Linked DNA regions of Homo sapiens: region 2 is linked to region 1. The links come from fine-mapping of genetic effects on gene expression. Tissue or cell type: whole blood. Region 1 holds a variant in brackets; the other region holds the start of a gene. All regions are shown on one strand. Distances are from middle to middle. Region 1 overlaps SASH1 (SAM and SH3 domain containing 1). Region 2 holds the start of SASH1 (SAM and SH3 domain containing 1).

Region 1 (4,390 bases):
TCGTCTCCTTCCAAGTATCCAATATTTTCTTGTGTCTATATCTTAGCAACTAAGTTCCTCAGCACAGTGTCTACCTTTCTTAAACTTCTTCTCAAAAATGATCTCTATGGGTTTTTTTTGGTTTGTGTTTTTGAGACAGGCTCTCCCTCTTTTGCCCAGGCTGGACTGCAGTGGCGCGAACACAGCTCACTGCAGCCACAATGTCCCAGGCTCAAGCAATCTTCCCACCTCAGCCCTCCAAGTAGTTGGAAATACAGGCAGCGCTACCATGCCTGGCTAATTTTTTTTTTTCTTTTCTTTTTTGAGACAGAGTTTCACTCTATCCCCCAGGCTGGAGTGCAGTGGTGCCACCTCGGCTCACCGCAACCTCCACCTCCCAGGTTCAAGCAATTCTCCTGTCTCAGCCTCCTGAGTAGCTGGGATTACAGGCGCACGCCACCACGCCTGGCTAATTTTTGTGTTTTTAGTAGAGATGAGGTTTCACCACTTTGGCCAGGCTGGTCTCAAACTCCTGACCTCAGGTGATCTGCCTGCCTTGGCCTCCCAAAGTGCTGGGATTACAGGCACGAGCTACCCTGCCCGGCTAATTTTTGTATTTTTTTTTTGTAGACATGGGGTTTCATCATGTTGTGCAAGCTGGTCTCGAACTCCTGAGCTCAACGATCCACCCACCTCAGCCTCCCAAAGGGCTGGGATTATAGGGATGAGCCACTACACCCAGGCAAAAATGATCTTTATATTCCTAGCTCCATCTCTCCTTCAGTTAAAGCTCCCATTATGTGAGCCATTTCAGCAAGGGAGAGCAAGACATCAAAGGTGCTTAAGGATCGATCATGGAGGATGCATCATTTGAATTCTTAAAGGGAAATATGGTCATGAGGTGGGCAAGAATGAGATGTACTTCAGTATGACCCCCTCCTCATCACCTCTACCAGGAGAACCAACAATATCTTTGCAGAGAACTCTGTGCCCTGCAAGATGTCTCAGTTAAAAAAAAAAAAAAGATAGTAAAAGAATTTGATCCAATAAAACAAAAAATGGCCATCAGGCTTCCTAAATACTGTAAATGTCAAATGACTGATACAAATAGTAGGTGCTAAAGAATGTGCAAAGAAGAGAAATACTGATTTTGCAATGTCAACAGACCATACGATTTAAAAAAGCAATCATGGGTTGTAAATCATATGATAATGAGGCATGACAGCTGGGAGCTAGCTTGATCACAAAGTACCTGACACAGTGAAATACTTGAAGGGAAAATTTTCTTTTTCCTCTCCTTTCTTTTTTTTTTTTGTGACAGAGTCTCACTTTGGTGCCCAGGCTGGAGTGCAGTGGCACGATCTCAGCTCACTGCAACCTCCGCCTCTCAGGTTCAAGTGATTCTCCTGCCTCAGCCTCTCAAGTAGCTGGGATTACAGGCACATACCACCATGCCTGGCTAATTTTTGTATTTTTGGTAGAGATGGGGTTTCACTATGTTGGCCAGGCTGGTCTCCCACTCCTGACCTCAGGTGATCTGTCTTCCTAAGCCTCCCAAAGTGCTGAGATTACAGGCATGAAGCACTGTGCCCGGCCGGAGGGAAAATTTTTGTTAATCATGGAATGTTCTTAATTTTTTAATATTGGTATCTTTGACTCCATGCTTCATTTGTACTATTTTGCAATGTTTCCTATGGTCAGAACCCTTGGGGATGATGCAGACTCTATCCTTGTGTTCTTCCCATTTCCCGTGGCAGAACCTATTCTCATCTTGACCTTGTATCTACAGAAACCTTCCTTTTGGACTTGAGTCATTTCCTGTCCCAACTATAGCAACTGCTAGCCTTACGTTCTTCTTGAATATTGAATTGTGAACTCTAAACGTGCTCAGGACAGGCAACTTTCACGTTTCAACTTCCACCCTACATTAGTTAGGAGTCTACACTCTTGCTTTTGTAATCCATCGCTGAGCTTGATTCAAAATTACTGATTCCACTGTCATTCTTTTAATTGAGTATGGTCCTCTCCACACACCCCATCGACTTCCCACAGCTAATGGTGAGTGTGTGTGTCCCCAAAGGAAAGTGGAGCAGTGGTGAGCCATCTCTCAAGACTTCAGGGGACCTTTCCCTTCGTGACCATGAATCATCTTCCTTCTCGATCTCAACGTGAAAACTTTCCTTTTCCTCTGCTAATAAGAAGTTTCTTAA[T/C]AGGATGTCTGCTGGGCTGTGTAATAATCTCCAAAGGGAAGTGATGGAGGTTTTGGCATGAGTCATTGACGTGGAGCTGGAGGAAGTAATGGGCAGTAATGGACCAGAGGGAGCAGTCCTTTACCAACAGGATGGGCTGCCGATGAGCTGGGAAATTTTATTTTTCTAACTCTCCATTTTTATATTACTTGGTGAGGACATTTCTCTCAATGCATTTACTCTGAATGAATGGTGGGCATTAATATTAATTTATTCAGGGATCAGAACTTTTTAGAATGTATGTCCCATTAGAGTTTAATTAAAATGTCCATTATAGAATCCACAGGGAATAAAATATCCTATAAGTGGTTTCCATTTTCTCCATATCCTCTTTTACTTTCATTGCTAACCCTCAGCAATCCAGCAAGGAGTGATTTCTGACTCTCCAAATCTTGTAAGATGCCTGCACATCTTACACAGCCTCAAAGACCAGGGAGTGAGGTGGTACCAGGAGGGGTCTGAAGCAGAGGTTAAGAAGAGCCTCAATCGGCCGGGCGTGGTGGCTTATGCCTGTAATCCCAGCACTTTGGGAGGCCGAGACGGGTGGATCACGAGGTCAGGAGTTCAAGACCAGCATGGCCAAGATGGTGAAACCCCGTCCCTACTAAAAATACAGAAAATTAGCCGGGTGTGGTGGCGGGCGCCTGTAATCCCAGCTACTCAGGAGGCTGAGGCAGAGAATTGCTTGAATCTGGGAGGTGCAGGTTGCAGTGAGCGAAGATCGTGCCACTGCACTCCAGCCTTGGCAACAGACCAAGACTCCATCTCAAAAAAAAAAGAAGTGTTGGGAGGCCCAGGCAGGCGCATCATTGGAGCCCAGGAGTTTGAGGCCAGTCTGGGCAACATGGTGAAACCCTGTCTCTACAAAAAAATAAATAAATAAAAAAAATAAAGAAGAGCCTCAATCACTCCGTCCCTAACACTATCCACCGCCACGTCCTCCAGAACACCGTGATTCATCTGATGTTGCATTCAAAGGATTGAGGACAGGGAATTCAAAGGGTGAGGCCAAGGGGTGAGGCAGGGCAGCCCTGTGTTTATGGATATCACCACCAAGGTTCCTTTGCAGCCATGCAGCCCATGCCCAAAACCCTTGGCCAGGGTCCCTGCCCCACATCAGCATATCTGCCCAGACCTAAGAAGCCACTTCAGGAATCCCTGCACCAATAAGACTTCTATGCTGCACTACAACTTTCTCTCCACACCCTCTCTCCCAGCTCTGTCCTGGGTGGCAGTTGGGATAGGTAGCAGTTGAGATTCAAAGAGGAAAACAAAGAGGTATTATCTTCTTTAGGAAACTTTAACTCAATTCCACTACTTGTATGTATGTATGTATTTTTGAGGCAAGGTCTTGCTCTGTTTCCCGGGCTGGAGTGCAGTGGCACAATCATGGCTCACTGCAGCCTCAACCTCCTGGGCTAAGGTGATCCTCCTGCTTCATCCTTCCAAGTAGCTGGGACTACAGTCACACGCCACCACACCTGACTAATTTTTTATTTTTTGTAGAGAAGGGGTCTCACTATGTTACCCAGGCTCAATTCCACTATTTTAAAACAAAGATGGAAAGCATTCCTAAGCCTCCGTTTCCTCATACGACCACACCCTCACCCTCACCTCACTTTCAAAAAAAAAAAAGGCATATAATAGTAAAAATGGCAAGCAGGAAAGGGGAGAAAACCAGGGGCATTAGACTGAGGCCTTGTGTGGGAGGGAAGATGGGGCACATTGCAATCTCTTCCTCATTGCTCAGTCCACATCACTGCTTATCTCATAGAACCTAGTAAGAAATGCTGGACATTTGGCCAGGCATGGTGGCACATGCCTGTAATCCCAGCTACTCGGGAGGCTGAGGCAGGAGAATCTCTTAAACCAGAGAGGCAGAGGTTGTAGTGAGCCAAGATGGCGCCACTGCACTCCAGCCTGAGCGACAAAGCAAGACTCCATCTCAAAAAAAAAAAAGAGGCCAGGCACGGTGGCTCACGCCTGTAATCCCAGCACTTTGGGAGGCCAAGGTGGGCGGATCACAAGGTCAGGATATCGAGACCATCCTGGCTAACACGGAGAAACCCCGTCTCTACTAAAAATACAACAAACAAACAAACAAAAAATAGCTGGGCGTGGTTGTGGGCGTCTGTAGTCCCAGCTACTCGGGAGGCTGAGGC
Region 2 (4,390 bases), 22 kb after region 1:
AGGCAGGAAAATTGCTTGAACTCAGGAGGCGGAGGTTGCAGTGAGCTGAGCTCGTGCCACTGCACCCCAGCCTGGGCGACGGAGCAAGACTTCGTCTCAAAAAAAAAAAAAAAAAAGAAAAGAAAAAGTTTATCACAACTTTAAAATGTCCATTAGGTTTTCTGGAACTTCAGTGAAGGATCATATTCATCTGTATACTTCAGAAAATGCAAAAACAAAACCTTTTAAATCTAAAATATATATTAGATTTAGGTATATTATATACATGTGCTATATATAGTATGTAAATATACATTGCATGCATATTTATATACATTTTTCAATACTGGAGAGTGACAAGAGCAGATAGAAATCTTTAACCAACGCTCGCTGGTTCTCTGTATAGTAAGAATCATAAATACCAATGGTCACCTGAAAATGGAGTAACTGGGCTTTTAGGATGTCCAGAAGGAAGAGACAGGAGACTTTGCAGGAAACAAATAAAACCTGAAAGACAGCTACACTTATTGAGCCTCTACTATATGCTATACAGTCTGCTGAGTACTTGATACACACATCAACCCAGCTAAATCTCAGAAACCCCAAGAAGCAAGTCTTCTTTTCTTCAATTTTCAGGTGATGAAACTGAGGATCAGAGAGGTTGAATGACTTGGCCAAGATCATGTAAACAGTCAATTGGAGAGCTGGCATTTGACCTAGTATAACTTACTTTGAAGCCCAAGAGTTTAATCACTGTGCTAAAAACTGTACACGGTTTATCATTCCCAAAGAAGAACTTTCACTCCATCTCCTCCCACTCAAAAAATATAAGATCTCAAAGCAAATCTAGAGACTTTTCTGATAATCTGCACATCTGGCCATTCCAAGTCTTTAAACTAAAGTTGTCTTTTATGTATGGATTAAGATGTCTGACTGTAATAAACCTCGCCCATCTGATTCCAGTCTACCTGCCTAACTACAGCTCCACCAAAGCAAATCTATTACTTCCCCAAGGTATTCAACCCTGAGCAGGTTAAAACTTCACCCTCCATACAGAAGAACTGCTTCCCAGAGACTATGCCAAATCCAGGGGCGCTTTTAGTCACTGGACATTTCAAAATACATGACAGCACAGATTTAGCAAAATAAGTCCTATTGTTTTAGCCCCAAACATATAAAACAAATATCCTGTAACTCCACAAATTGAAAAACTGCAAAAAAAAGTAGGCAAACATTTTGGCAGTTCTGAGTAAGGAAATGTTTGTTTTCCCTCTTGTGGTCACACAACAAATGGTGAAGAGATAAACATCAGTAACATCAGCCTTTTCCCTAATCCAGCACCAACCAAATATTTATTTACATCTACTTTTTGAAGGCCTCTTTCTCGCCTTTTCCACACCAACATGTCAGCAGGTGTCCCAGATTAAACTGTTGAATATCATACCCGATTGTTTAAAAAACACCTTTTGACGGGACCTGTGGCTGGTTATTTTTTAATTAGGGTTTGAAATCCTATACTGTGTGTATTTAGCCCCCTAAGAACTAGAGCCAGAGAAGGACGCCTCTGCGGAGTGGGTTGCCCAGTGGGTGGGCGAGAAGGGAGCCCCCGGTTTCAGAGGGGCTGCTGCGAACTGTACTTCCTGCGCCGCCCCCTCCCCAGGTAACTTACCAGGATACCCATCACGTCGGTCCAGAGTCGGGAGAACGCCTCGGATGTGCCAGCACCCGGCTTGGGCTCCGGTTCCGGCTCCGGCGCGGGCTCGGGCTCCGGCTCGGGCTCGGGCTCAGGCTCCGGCCCCGGGCCAGCTGCTCCCGCGTCCTCCATGGCCGTGTCCCGCGCGCGGGCCGTGCGTCCCAGTCCCCGCGGCGCCCTCGCCCCGCACCCGCGCGCAGCCTGCCCGGATGCCGGGTCCCCGCCCGCGGCGTCACCGAGCCGCGCCCCCGCGCTGCATGCCCCGGCGGCCCCGGCCACCCCGCGGGGGCCCTTCGCAGGCGCCCGCACCTCGGGTCTAGGTGGCCACGGGCTGCGCGACTGACAACTCCAGAAACTTTCCCACCCCGCTCGGCGCAGCAACAGGGTAGCAGGAGGCAAAGTCCGCACCACTGAGTTGTACGGCGGGGAATTCGCTCGGCCCAGAAGCAATTAAACCCACTGCAAAGGCGTTTCTTCCTGTGACGGGAACCAACTAACTAAGGCACGCGACTCGTTCCTTCTAGCAAGTCTTGGCAGGACCCGGCAGGGGTGGCCGCGGAGCCTCTAGATCTTGGAGGGAGCTCCCCGGGACCCCTCTCTTCAAAATGAGCTCTTCCAGCTCCACATGACTCTCTCCCTCGAGGCTAAAGAAAGCGTTTAGCAACAAAAGGTGCTCTGATGTCAGGCTCTTTGCATGGAAATGAGCCTCGGACAGGAGAACAAATCGCCTGTTGAAAGAGCAGCCGCGCCGCGGTCTCCGGCCCGCACAAGTTTCCAATCACGCTATTCACGGAAACGCTTTTGGTAACGGAAACCCGAGAAAGTTAATCTTTAAGCGACTCCCGCCCAAAGGCTTCACAAGTAGTCCGTGTCGCTACAATGCATACCTCGCCCCTCGTGAAGTCAAGCGACCCAAGGAATTACAAATCCTGCCTCTGCCAGCCAAGACTTCTCTGCAAAACAAGTGTGAAAGCTTGGGCACGAGCCATTGTTTGGATCATTTTTTATGAGTGGGGGCATTTTGGCTCCTGAATGCCCACAATGCCATGCATTGCTAGGGCTTTCGGCTAATTAAGGGAAATGCGCTTTGGGTTTTAATTATTCCTTTACATTAGGGACACAGGGAAGGGCTATTTTCGAAACTAAATTCAAATGATTGTGTAGCCAGTCAGCCTACACACACTTGGGGCCCTGTGTGTGTTTTTCCAAGGGGAAGCCCCAGGACAGATTTATTTTATAAGGGAACTAGCCCTGGAGAGGTGATTTTTCCCTTTTGTGATTCTATCTTTCAAGACTACTCAGAGTTTTCCTTGGAAGGTGACAATGCACGTCACATTCGATTTGGTGATTGATCACTTTTGAAACAGTTAAGAAACCACATGGAGTTTGCTCCTCTGTTAGGGCCTTGTGGTTTAAAAGGAAAAAAAAAAGTGAGATGCCCCAGGGAGAGAGCCCTGCTTGTTTTGAGGCCTCTCCTGTTTCTTGTTGATTGTGGGGTTTTTTTTGTTTGTTTGTTTGTTTTGTTTTGTTTTGTTTTGTTTTCCTTCTGAGTCCACTTGAAAGGGGATAAGAGCATGTCCTTGAATTCCCCTTGTTCAAGTATTAAGTGCTGTGAGCACCAATCAATGCAATGGGTGAATAGTCCTTACAGGAAAGTTCAAAATGTAAAAACATTTTCAAAAGTAACTAAATTTATAAACACAATCCCTGATAATTTTTGTGTGTTTTTGGCGGGTGCGGGGCTGGCGCCTGTAATCCCAGCACTTTGGGAGGCTGAGGCGGGCGAATCACTTGAGGCCAGGATTTTGAGAACAGCCTGGTCAACACAGCAAAACCCTGTCTCTACTAAAAATACAAAAAAAAAAAAAACAAAAAAAAAAAACAAAACATAGCAAGAGTGTTGGAACATGCCTGTAATCCCAGCTACTCAGGAGGCTGAGGCAGGAGAATAGCTTGAACCCAGGAGGCGAAGGTTACAGTGAGGTCCTGCTGCTGCACTCCAGCCTGGGTGACAGAGGAAGACTCTCTGTCTCCAAAGAAAAAAAAAGTATGCTGAAAAATTTTTTTAGAGACAAGGTCCTGCTCTCTCACCCCGGCAGTGCAGTGCTGCAATCGTAGCTCACTGCGGCCTTGAACTCCTGGGCTCAAGCAATCCTCCTGCCTCAACCACCTGAGTAGCAGGGACTACAGGCACACCGCTGCACCAGACTAATTTTTTAAATTTTTTATAGAGACATGATCTCTTGCTGTTGCCCAAGGTGGTCTCAAACTCCTGGACTCAAGGGATCCTCCCTCCTTGGTCTCCTCAAGTGCTGGGATTATAGGCATGAGCCACTGCGCACAGTCTCTGACGATAATGTTTGTGAAAGGAAACCAAAAGAATTATTAAATTTCTCCTTAATAGCATTGAGGCATTGTGTTGAAGTAGAAAGAGCACTGAACTATGAGTCAGTACAGCCAGGTCTTGTGCTTTCCTAGGCTGATGCCGGAGTTAGGCCAGATGGGTTTTCAAGGCTCCCTCGTGCTCTGTGATACTTTGAATAAAAATAAATTCAGTTAAGGCTGATGAGGTTTTTTTAATTGTCATTTCTATAAATAGATAAATATAAGTAAATGATAGGAAAAGATAAATAGCCTTTACAGTTGACTGTATTGGTATATTTAAGAATTTGAATTTATTCACCACGTGATACTTTTTTTTTTTTTTTTGAGACAGAG

What was found.
Region 2: SASH1 starts here. The variant in region 1 is fine-mapped to the expression of SASH1 in whole blood (TOPMed, PIP above 0.99).

The regions. Positions count from the first base shown.
Region 1 is chr6:148,362,026-148,366,415 of GRCh38, reverse strand. All of the region lies in intron 1 of SASH1 (SAM and SH3 domain containing 1), which reads right to left. Among named protein-coding and RNA genes, the nearest start is that of SASH1, 21 kb to the right of the region's middle. RefSeq lists a silencer at 1,557-1,757. The variant T/C (reference allele first, on the strand shown) is at 2,190.
Region 2 is chr6:148,340,482-148,344,871 of GRCh38, reverse strand. SASH1 (SAM and SH3 domain containing 1) reads right to left here and starts at 2,034. Exons shown (of 20, transcript NM_015278.5): 1 at 1,649-2,034. The coding sequence starts at 1,804. RefSeq lists an enhancer at 2,808-3,387.